4 separate regions of the Homo sapiens genome follow, and regions 1, 2 and 4 are each linked to region 3. Evidence: fine-mapped expression QTL. A gene starts in region 3. Each other region holds a variant in brackets. All regions are shown on one strand. Distances are between the middles of the regions.

Region 1 (2,500 bases), 52 kb after region 3:
ATTACTCTGCTTTATCCTGCTCCATAGCAAGCAAAGTGACTTGAAAAATTAAATCTATATGTTTGCAGTTTTGTAGTTATTCATGAAGGGTTTCATTCATGAACTCTCTTGGTATCCTGTCATGCGTGATAGATTTAGTATTAGTAAAAATGCCTTTTTGCATATGTTTTTGCAGTTTGGATGGTCTGTACATGCAAGTACAAGTTTAAATTTGCCCATCTCTCCTTTCTCTCTTTTATTAGTGGTGTAATGAATTCAGATCACCATTGTAGGCAGGTGTCTGCCATATTATTACTGAGGGGAAAAGGATATTAAAAGGTTATACTGCATCCTGAATGTGGCCTTTGGGACAAAACTGAAACATTGAACACCACAGTTTAGCCCTTTCATAAGTACTTCCTTTTCCTCATCTTCAGGATCAGAAGGATTCCTAGTTAGGAAAAGGATTTTCAGAGTTATGTGGTTCATACTCTTTAGATAGTGCCACATGGGAAAATGAAAATCTACTCTTAGAATGTTGTTAAGAAGACATAATTCTATACTTTCCCTTAGTAAACTTCCAGATTATCATGAAAAACATGCATCAATTGTATCATAAAATTGGGGAAAATGAAGATATGAGGTTAATGCTCCAGACATAACTTATTTTGTGCCCTTATCTTCATTCTGTATCTGTCTTCCAAAAATGCAAATCCAATACAGTAATATAATGGCAGTTATTGAGCTGTTCATATATGCTAGGTACTGTTTTAAATGCTTTTGATGTATTCATTTGATTCTGGCAACAATCCTGTAAAATAGATAGTGTTATTATTTCCATCTTATAAATGAGGAAACAGGCACGGGATTTAAGTAATTCGTGTAAAGTCATAAGACTTTTGAGTGGCAGGGCTGAAATGTAAGTTCAGGCAGTCTTATTCGGTAACCCCAACTCTTAACTACCATGCTACGTTGATGCCATCCCTCCTGCTTACAATGATTTAGGAAGCTGTTCAGGGTTTCTTATTGCCTTTGGGAGGAAGTCCAACTCTTTAACACCTCCTCTTTGTTCTTATATAATCTGACCATAGCTTACAGTTCGAGAGTACCTCATATTCCTGTGGTACATTCCCTCTCTTTCTCTCACTCTCCCTTTACCCCCTTTTTTCCTTTTTTTT[G/TG]GTGGTTCTAAAAAGTTCTAAGTGCTATCTCACTTAAAGTCCTTCACACACTTTTCTGTCTGCTAGGATATTCTTATTCTGTTTGTGTACCCGCTTTTCTTCCTTACCCTTTCAGGTCTGGGGAGCTTTACCAGACTGCAAAACCTTTTCTGTGTGCCTCTCTGCTTTCCTCCTCTGAGTTCTGTGAGGACATTGTTTCTATAGTGCCAAAAGTTGTTGGTACATTTTTTTCAAAGTATTTGCTGAATGATGACTATTTTCCAAACTAATTGCAAAACAGAGTTTGTGACTTTTCCCCCTACTTGTTTATACAAATATATTCATTCCATGTGTGTTAAATAAATAAACGATTATTGCTACTTCTGATATATGCAATATATATATCATGCATTATGTATATTAATACATATATCCATTTTCACATAGGTTCTATCAACATCAGTAACAAATCATCCAGTATTTCATACTACATTTTAGATAGCAAAAAGCAATGACACATGAACACCTGGATTGTCTGTTCAAGATTTTAAAATGTAAAATCTCCAGTCATATCTTTAAAGATTTTATAAAGCATATTTTCCACATTATGATTTAAAATCATAGGTAAAGGAATAGCGCAAGAGTACATTAGAAAAAAAAAAAACTGGTGAAATCTGCCAGTGTACTGTGTTGTCAAGGAACAGAAAAAAAATTAGAGCCTTTGAATTTTTAGGATTCAGTATATGTATTAGTCCCTTTTCATACTGCTGTGAAACACCTGAGACTGGGTAATTTATAAGGAAAAGAGGTTTAATTGGCTCATGGCTCCCCAGGCTATACAGGAAGGGCCTCAGGAAACTTACAGTCATGGTGGGAGATGAAGGGGAAGCAGGCACATCTTACGTGGTCAGAGCAGGAGGAAGAGGCGAGGAGGTGCTGCAGCCTTTTAATTTATTTATTTATTATAATTTTTTTATTTCCATAGGTTTTTGGGAACAAGTGGTATTTGGTTACACAAGTAAGTTTTTTAGTGGTGATTTGTGAGATTGTGGTGTACCCATCACCCGAGCAGTACACACTGAACCCAGTTTGTAGTCTTTTATCCTTCACCACCTTCCCACCTTTTCCCCTTGAGTCCGTGAAGTCTGTTGTGTCATTCTTATGCCTTTGCATCCCCATAGCTTAGCTTCCACTTATGAATGAGAACATACAATGTTTGATTTTCCCTCCTGAGTTACGTCACCTAGAATAATAGTCTCCAGTCCCATCCAGGTTGCTGTGAATGCCATTAGTTCATTCATTTTTATGGCTGAGTGGTATTCTATTGTATATATACACCACAGTTTCTTTATCCACTCATTGAT
Region 2 (2,500 bases), 39 kb after region 3:
CCTGCCTCAGCCTCCCAAAGTGCTGGGATTACAGGTGTGAGCCACCACGTCTGGCCAGCAAAATTTTTTAAAAAGAAAAAAAAATCAAATATTATATTTAGGAGAATTAGTGATTTCTACATTATCAAACCAACAGAGGAAAAAAATTTCAGAAAAAAGTATTGGGAGAGGGGTTGGGTGGGGAGAGATTTATTCACTAAAGAAGCACTCACGAAACTCATTGAACACAATGTTATGCATGTAACTTCTGTCTATAGCTTTTTATTTGGTCTTTTTTGAGAGTATGCTCTGCTAGATATTTTTGCTTTATCGTCATGGACTTAGGTACTGTACCCTGCCCTGTTATCCTAAAAGAACTGATTAGTTATATTTGCAGTGAGTGGTGATAATAATGTAATTTCAAGAAAATTTTTACCTTCATCCCGCTGCATAAATGCCTCCTTCTTCCTAAAGCCTGACATTGTTTTACAAAGGGACAGTATCCTTTATATTACAGCTAGAGATTTTTAAAAAGGCTTTAAGAGTTAACGGATACTTAAAACGTAATATGTAATTAAATATAAATGATAGATGTCAGATCTTTCCACATTACATGAAGGGCCAAATTTAAGAGACCCTGGTATTAGATAGCTGGAGGATTATTATCTCTCACTTCTAGGAAAATAAAAAAGAAGAGTGGGAGGGCAGACTACCTGAGACCAGTTCCCCAGAACTCCTTTGCCACAGTCTACCTTCGCTGGAGGCTGGCAGCAGAGGGAAGCTATTTTTTTTGTCTTACTTCAAGACAGCTTTAAAGTGACCTTAAAAGTCTACTCATTTATAGTAGGATTTAGTTGGATCATGACACACAAGACACAGAAAGTTCAAAACTGGAAGGGGTCTTCAATTTTAATGCTATTTAATAATTGACGGTGTCTTAATATGAAAGTCGAATTAATATTGTCTGCCTTCAGAGTATTTTCCTTGCCTTGTGCCTCATTTTAATTCACTTATTCCCCGGATCTTGCTCATCTGATTTAAAAAGAGGTTGTGATTTCTAAAGTAAAGTTATTGTATTTCTTACTATTCCTCATCTGCCTTCTCCATTGCATCAGTGTGCTACTGTTGCTACTGTTATAACATTGTTGCATAGCTCTCCAGAGTACTGGAATAGAGAAATAGAGAAATTGAAAACCACTTGTTAGAAAAGACTTGTAAGGCTACATTACAGAAGCTCTATTTCGTATAGTTGAAT[T/G]AGTTGATAATGGGTGGTGATTTTAGTCTTGAACTGGGCGGGGAGCAGGGGGATAAAAAATTTAATGCTAATTCTGTGGGCTGATTTGAATAGGTTTGTACTGATCTCTTTTTTTGCCATTTTAAACAGAGCAACTGTTGCTTCCTAGAAAATGTTGAACAAATAAGGTGAATATAAACTAAATGTATTAGGATGGAGTAACTGCCAATAAAATGGCAGTTTTTGGCTGTTTTTTAACTTTGGTTTCACTGAGTAGTCTTCTGGGCTAAACAGTTTTGGTTGTTTTAAACAATACTCAGAAGCCATTTACAAATGCTCAAAAATTGTTTTTTTCACAAGTGAAATTATGGCTTTTAAAACTTCATTGTGAGCACATGATCTTTGGCCAGTGTCCTTTATTTGGTACCTGAAATGAATTTTGAATATGGCTTTCTAATAGATTTTGTAGTCTATATTCAAGCATGACTGTACTTCTTGATATCTCAGAATAATTTATACGCAGACAATTTCTTTTTTGTTTTGTTTTTTTGAGACGGAGTCTTGCTCTGTGGCCCAGGCTGGAGTGCAGTGACATGATCTTGGCTCACTGCAACCTCTGCCTCCTGGGCTCAAGTGATTCTCCTGCCTCAGCCTCCCAAGTAGCTGGGATTACAGGCTGGCACCACCATGCCCGACTAGTTTTGTATTTTTAGTAGAGACGGGGTTTCACCATGTTGACCAGGCTGGTCTCAAACTCCTGACCTCAGGTGATCCACCCACCTTGGCCTCTCAAAGTGTTGGGATTACAGGCGTGAGCCACCACACCCGGCCTAATAATTTATTAACTCATGAACAGTAGCCTTAAGAGAAAACGATTTAAGTTTTACTTTATATTGAAGAAGGCAGCATTTAAAAAAGCTCAATATTTTCCTTTCTTTCCTTAATGCTTTTTAATTTCCGTTTTGTTCATTTTTCTAGGGCGACATACCTTCTGTTGAATACCTTTTACAAAATGGAAGTGATCCAAATGTTAAAGACCATGCTGGATGGACACCATTGGTAGTTGTCTGGTTTTTATTCTCATTCTTTCTGTGTTTTACAGTTCTTATAGTTTATAGTTATGTAGTTGTCTATATATCATCCTCTGCCACATATACTCTTTTTAGTCTGAAGAACTTATGTTTTCATCAAGTATGAGAACATGATTACTTTCCTTCTAGCTTTTCATTTGTGACAGGCAAGAAATTGGTTACCTTTTGACAGACTACCTTTAGATTTAGGAATCCA
Region 3 (2,730 bases):
AGCTACGACAGGAAACCAGGCGAGGACGAGGCAACTGGGGATGTTGTGGAGCAGAGACGGAGAGAAAATGGGTGCATTCGAGACAAGTTAGGGGGAAAAAATGCAAGGACTTGGAAATGAACTTGGGGCGCGGCAGGAAGGCATGACGGGTTGCTCTGTAGGTCTTATCTGTAAATTACGGCGATCAGTGAAAGATCTGGAGGAGGAAGGTGGACACACTCTCTAACAAAAAAAACCCTTTTTGAAATTTTATACCAATATTTTAAAAGTAAACCAGATCTTTTCAGACATGCCTTTGAGCTGATATTTGTTAACTAGTTAGAATTAGAAACTTTCCTTATTTTTACTCAGTTACAATATACGCCACAGCTGAGGTGAGAGGAAAGAAAAGGTTGCTTTCTTAGGAACAAAGAGTGGTACCTTCAGTATCGTGGGCAAAGCTTTTCCAAGTCCAACAGCAGTCAAAACAGCGCTTTTTATAAATAACACTCAGCTAAAAGTTTCTGGGTTTGTGATTGTTCCAACGGTTAAGCTCGGATGAGGGTCCCTGGAGTCGTAGCTCCCGGGAAACGTCGACTGGCTTTCCACCTGGACTTCATCCGTCCAGGCAGCCCAGAGGGGCTTCAGGCCCCGCCCGCTCTCCTGCCAACTACAGCCTCGCGACTGCGCTCAGCCTTCAGGCCCCGCCCCTTCGGTCAAGCGGCGTGCTCTCACTGCACGGCGCCTGGGCCCCGCGCGCCGGGACCTCGGTTTCAGCCGTCCTGTCCTGCCCCGAGGCCCCTAGGCCCCGCCCCTGGGCCCCGCGCGCCAGGACTTCGGTTTCGACCGTCCTGTCCCGCCCCGAGGCTCCTAGGCCCCGCCCCCTCTGTCCCCGGCGTGTTCTCGCGGCTCCGCCCCTAGGACCCGCGCGCCGGGACTTTGGCAAGTTTCAGCCGTCCGGCCCCGCCCCCTCGGTCCCACGGCTCTCGCGGCCCCTCCCCTAAGTCCCACACGCCGGGACTTTGGCAAGTTTCAGCCTCCAGCCCCACCCCTAGGTCCCGCCCACTCGGCCAGCGGCTGGCTCTCGCGGCCCCGCCCCTGTGCCCTGCGAGTCCCTATTTTGGGAGCATTGCGGCCGCCGTGCCCCGCCCCTCCCCGCGCGCCCCGCCCCTCTGGCGGCCCGCCGTCCCAGACGCGGGAAGAGCTTGGCCGGTTTCGAGTCGCTGGCCTGCAGCTTCCCTGTGGTTTCCCGAGGCTTCCTTGCTTCCCGCTCTGCGAGGAGCCTTTCATCCGAAGGCGGGACGATGCCGGATAATCGGCAGCCGAGGAACCGGCAGCCGAGGATCCGCTCCGGGAACGAGCCTCGTTCCGCGCCCGCCATGGAACCGGATGGTCGCGGTGCCTGGGCCCACAGTCGCGCCGCGCTCGACCGCCTGGAGAAGCTGCTGCGCTGCTCGCGTTGGTAAAGACGGAGCTTCTTGGGGGTGGCTGCGAGGGCACGGGTCGCACAGTTTCTGGGGGCGGCAGAATCTTTTCAAATCTTCCGTTTCCTCCTTCCGTTCCCGCGCTGCAGTCGGGTCGGCGTGCGGTTAGCACCTGCCGGGGGATATAGTATTAACAACTTCTGCTTCTCATTCACTTTATTTTTGGGCGACTTACCGGCCTCCCCTTGCCCTGAATCCAACTGAAACGGTAGTTTTTGAACTTCAGCGGGCTGAAGAACCGTCTGGAGGTGTGGCTAAAAAAATGTTCATCCCGGTCGCGCCTCCAGAGTTTGAATCGGGCTGGGGTGGGGCTGAGGCTTCTGCATTTTTTACCCGGCCCTGGATTACCCCGCTGCTTTCCGGGAGCTGTGGCGAATTGGGCTGGCGGGCCGCCCCGGAGACCCTCTAAATTAGAAGCAGCTGCCACTCTAAGTTAAACTGGCCTTTTTGACATTTTCTCCGTGCCAGCTTTTTCGAGTGAGATGGGATGGAGCATCGGATATCTACCATAGTTGTAGATTGAAGATGGCACGGAATTTCTCATTTTCTTAGTTTGCTCAAAAGACTGTATGTCTGGTGTCCCCGCTCTTAGTGATGCTGTTTATTGTTTTCCTTCATGCTGTCACATTATGGGAGTCCTCTCAGGGTTTTCATTCCGTCCAAAGACATTTTCATGAGTGTTACTTCTTGCTTTTTTTCGTGTAGCTCTTTCTAGTATACAAACCAAGAAGGTTTGTAAAACCCAAGAAAGGTTTGTCTCATTTTCATTTCTTCTGAAAAGCATTTTTATTGAGCACTTGCTGTGTGTACAGCTAAGTATTTCTGTATGAAGATCACTGGCAGTTTTTTTGTTATTTGTAGCTGTCAAAAGTTTATATCCTTTTTGGACTTTTTTCCCCTTTGATTTCTAACTTGCAGAACTTAAGTTACCTAGTTGCATAAAGTATAAGTAACACAACTTTTTCTTTTCTTTCCTTTTTTGAGACGGAGTCTCGCTCTGTCGCCCAGGCTGGAGTGCAGTGGCACGATCTTGTCTCACTGCAAGCTCCGCCTCCCGGGTTCACGCCATTCTCCTGCTTCAGCCTCCCAAGTAGCTGGGACTGCAGGCGCCCGCCATCATGCCCGGCTAATTTTTTGTATTTTTAGTACAGATGGGGTTTCACCGTGTTAGCCAGGATGGTCTCCGTCTCCTGACCTCGTGATCCGCCCGCCTCTGCCTCCCAAAGTGCTGGGATTACAGGCGTGAGCCACGGTGCCCGGCCAAACT
Region 4 (2,764 bases), 85 kb before region 3:
GAAAAAAAACATGCTTTCCATGCATTAGCTTACTTTTCAAACATCGTCAATCTTGGGAATTTCTTAGGAAGAAATGGTTAAATGTCCTGGATGGTTTCTTTTCTATTTGTATGTGTTTTTAATACCCCTAACTGCCCTTTCTCAGACAAAAATTTATGACACCATGTTTTGTTTAGTTAGACTTTCAGTGGCCTAAAGGCTCTGAATGCTAATGAGATAATTTGGCTGGAAATTCCAGATTGAGGCAATTAAGTCATGACCTGTGACAAACTAACTGTGCCTTAATTGTGAGGTAATTGAAATTCCTTTATTTGAAAAATATAATGGAAAAACAAAGTTTATTTTAATCACCTGGCCAAACTTTCAGAAAAATAGAATTGATAGTTATCATGTTAATTCTACGGATGTGTTACAGGGGAAAATGTTAATTCGTTTTCAGTTTGGGGCTGTAAATGTGGATCTAATATATACCACTTTGATTATTCTTGATCAAAAACTTTAAAAGGCTGTGTAATACAAAAATTACATAGCATCAAAATGTGCTAAGCCATACATAAAATTGTTGCTGGCATAATCCAGAAATAGAAAGGGGGTCTTCAAAAAATTCATGGACAATGCAAATGATAAAAAAAACTCTGGCTGGGCATGGTAACTCATGCTTGCAATCCCAGCACTTTGGGAGGCTAAGGCGGGCAGCTCACCTGAAGTCAGGAGTTCAAGACCAGCCTGGCCAACATGGGGAAATCCCATCTCTACTATAAATACAAAAATTAGCCGGGCATGGTGGTGCACACCTGTAGTCCCAGCTACTCTGGAGGCTGAAGCAGGAGAATTGCTTGAACCCAGCAGGCAGAGGATGCAGTGAGCCAAGATCATACCACTGTACTCCAGCCTGGGTGTCAGAGTGACAGTCTGTCACAAAAAAAAAAAAAAAAAAAAAAAAATGAGATGACATTGAAGATGAAGCCCACAGCAGCAGACCATCACATCATTTCATGAGGAAAAATTAATCATTTGTTCCCTAATTGAAGAGGACTGATGATTAACAGCAGAAAGAATAACCAACACCATAGACATCTCAGTTGCTTCAGCTCACACAATTCTGACTAAAAAATTAAACTTGAGCAAACTTTCCATTCAATGAGTGCCAAAAGCATTGTGTCCAGATCAGGTGCAGAAAGAACTTTCAATGGAAATATTAAACAAGTGGGATCAAGATCCTGAAGCATTCTTTCACCTTGGCAGACAAACAGATATATGTATACCCTGAAGCATGTCTTTGAAGAATTGGAACAGGTGATGAAATATGACTTTACCAGGATGATCCTGAAGACAAAGCACAATCAACACAAGGCTACCAAGAGGTGGAAGTGGTCCAGTCAAAGTAGAAATAGCCTGGTCAAGGGCAAATGTCATGCCAAGAGTTTTTTGGGATGCTTAAGTTATTTGGCTTGTTGACTTTCTGGAGGGCCAATGGATGAAAAGATCTGCTTATTATGAGAGTATTTTGAGAAAGTTAGCTAAAGATTTAGCAGAAAACACCCAGGAAAGCTTCACCAAGGAGTCCTTGTCCACCACAACAATGCTCCTGCTTGTTTCCCTCATCAAATGAGGGCAATTTTGTGAGAGTTTATATAGCAAATCATCAGACAACTAAACTTACAGTATTGATTTGGCTCCTTCTGATTTTTTTTTTTT[C/TC]CTTTATCTTAGAAAATCTTTAGAAGACACCCTTTCTTTTGTGAGTAATATAAAAAAGACTGCACTGACATGGTTAAATTCCCAGGACCCTCAGTTCTTTAGGGATGGACTAAATGGCTGATACTGCTTAGAAAGGTGTCTTGAACTTGATGAAGCCCAAGTTGAGAAATAAAGTCTTTTTTTTTTGTTTTTATCTTTTAATTCGATTTTCCATGAACTTTTAATTCCATTTTTCCATGAACAAGCCCCCTCATATATTAGTGTATGTACCCATAGCTTATAAAAATTTAGGTCTAAATTAAAGATGTGGTATGACTCAGGTATTCAGTAAACATCATGAAAAAGTGAATGGCCATAAAAGAGTAACAACACTGTTTAGAGTGCCCCATATAAGTGAATTTTCCAGATAACAATAGCTGGCCCCTTAAAGTGACATTATTTTTTAATAATTTATTTTTCTTCAGCTTTTATTCTATGTTCAGGGTACATGTGCAGGATGTGCAAGTTTGTTGCATAGGTGAAAGTGTGCCATGGTGGTTTGGTGCACAGATCAACCCATCACCTAGTTATGAAGCCCAGCATCCCTTAGCTATTCTTCCTGATGCTCTCCCCCCAACCACCCCATTAGGTTTTGAGAGAATTCTTTCTGCCCTCTGGAACAGAATTGTATCTTCTTGGTGACTCAGGACCATCATTGTAAGCTTGGGTTATTATACTGGGCTAGGATGCACTGACATCTACAGGGGCCTCAGAAAAAATGGGTAAGAGTGTGAATTCTGGGGCAAGATGGCCAGGTTTAAAATTTAGCCCTCCCCCTAACTCTACTAAGTGTACCTAGACTCGTTACTTGCACTCTGGTGTCCTCATCCACAAAATGAGAATAATAATAGTACTGCCTCACCAAGCTGTTGTGAGGATGAAATGAGTTCATACATGTAAAAGATTTAGAAGAGTGCCTGATAAACGTGCATTACTATTACCACTATTCTTGAGGTGTTTAGTTGTTCACAAAATAGTCCCACACTTTCTTTTGATGTTGTGTTTGTTCAGTGGACATTCATTTTTT

Alleles and levels. Alleles are on the strand shown, and positions count from the first base shown. SD is a standard deviation of normalised expression in the study named. Not every link is listed here.
With allele G in place of T in region 2, the expression in B cells of the gene that starts at base 1,170 in region 3 is higher (moderate effect, 0.60 SD a copy in Fairfax 2012).
As copies of C replace TC in region 4, the expression in naive CD8 T cells of the gene that starts at base 1,170 in region 3 goes down (large effect, 0.87 SD a copy in Schmiedel 2018).

Evidence for each region. PIP is the estimated chance that this variant, and not a neighbour inherited with it, causes the effect.
Region 1: its variant is fine-mapped to the expression of BARD1 in monocytes (BLUEPRINT, PIP 0.95). The same link has a PIP of 0.9 or more in monocytes after interferon gamma.
Region 2: its variant is fine-mapped to the expression of BARD1 in B cells (Fairfax 2012, PIP 0.95).
Region 4: its variant is fine-mapped to the expression of BARD1 in naive CD8 T cells (Schmiedel 2018, PIP 0.91).

What each region holds. Positions count from the first base shown.
Region 1 is chr2:214,756,591-214,759,090 of GRCh38, reverse strand. The region is part of intron 6 of BARD1 (BRCA1 associated RING domain 1); the gene reads left to right. Among named protein-coding and RNA genes, the nearest start is that of BARD1, 52 kb to the left of the region's middle. The variant G/TG (reference allele first, on the strand shown) is at 1,158.
Region 2 is chr2:214,769,004-214,771,503 of GRCh38, reverse strand. It overlaps BARD1 (BRCA1 associated RING domain 1), which reads left to right. Exons shown (of 11, transcript NM_000465.4): 5 at 2,192-2,272. Among named protein-coding and RNA genes, the nearest start is that of BARD1, 39 kb to the left of the region's middle. The variant T/G (reference allele first, on the strand shown) is at 1,235.
Region 3 is chr2:214,808,123-214,810,852 of GRCh38, reverse strand. It overlaps BARD1 (BRCA1 associated RING domain 1), which reads left to right and starts at 1,170. Exons shown (of 11, transcript NM_000465.4): 1 at 1,170-1,441. The coding sequence starts at 1,284. It overlaps SNHG31 (small nucleolar RNA host gene 31), which reads right to left and starts at 624. Exons shown (of 4, transcript NR_110292.1): 1 at 421-624. RefSeq lists a silencer at 692-1,261 and enhancers at 1,812-1,891, 2,182-2,231.
Region 4 is chr2:214,892,686-214,895,449 of GRCh38, reverse strand. The region is part of intron 2 of SNHG31 (small nucleolar RNA host gene 31); the gene reads right to left. Among named protein-coding and RNA genes, the nearest start is that of SNORA70I, 47 kb to the right of the region's middle. The variant C/TC (reference allele first, on the strand shown) is at 1,699.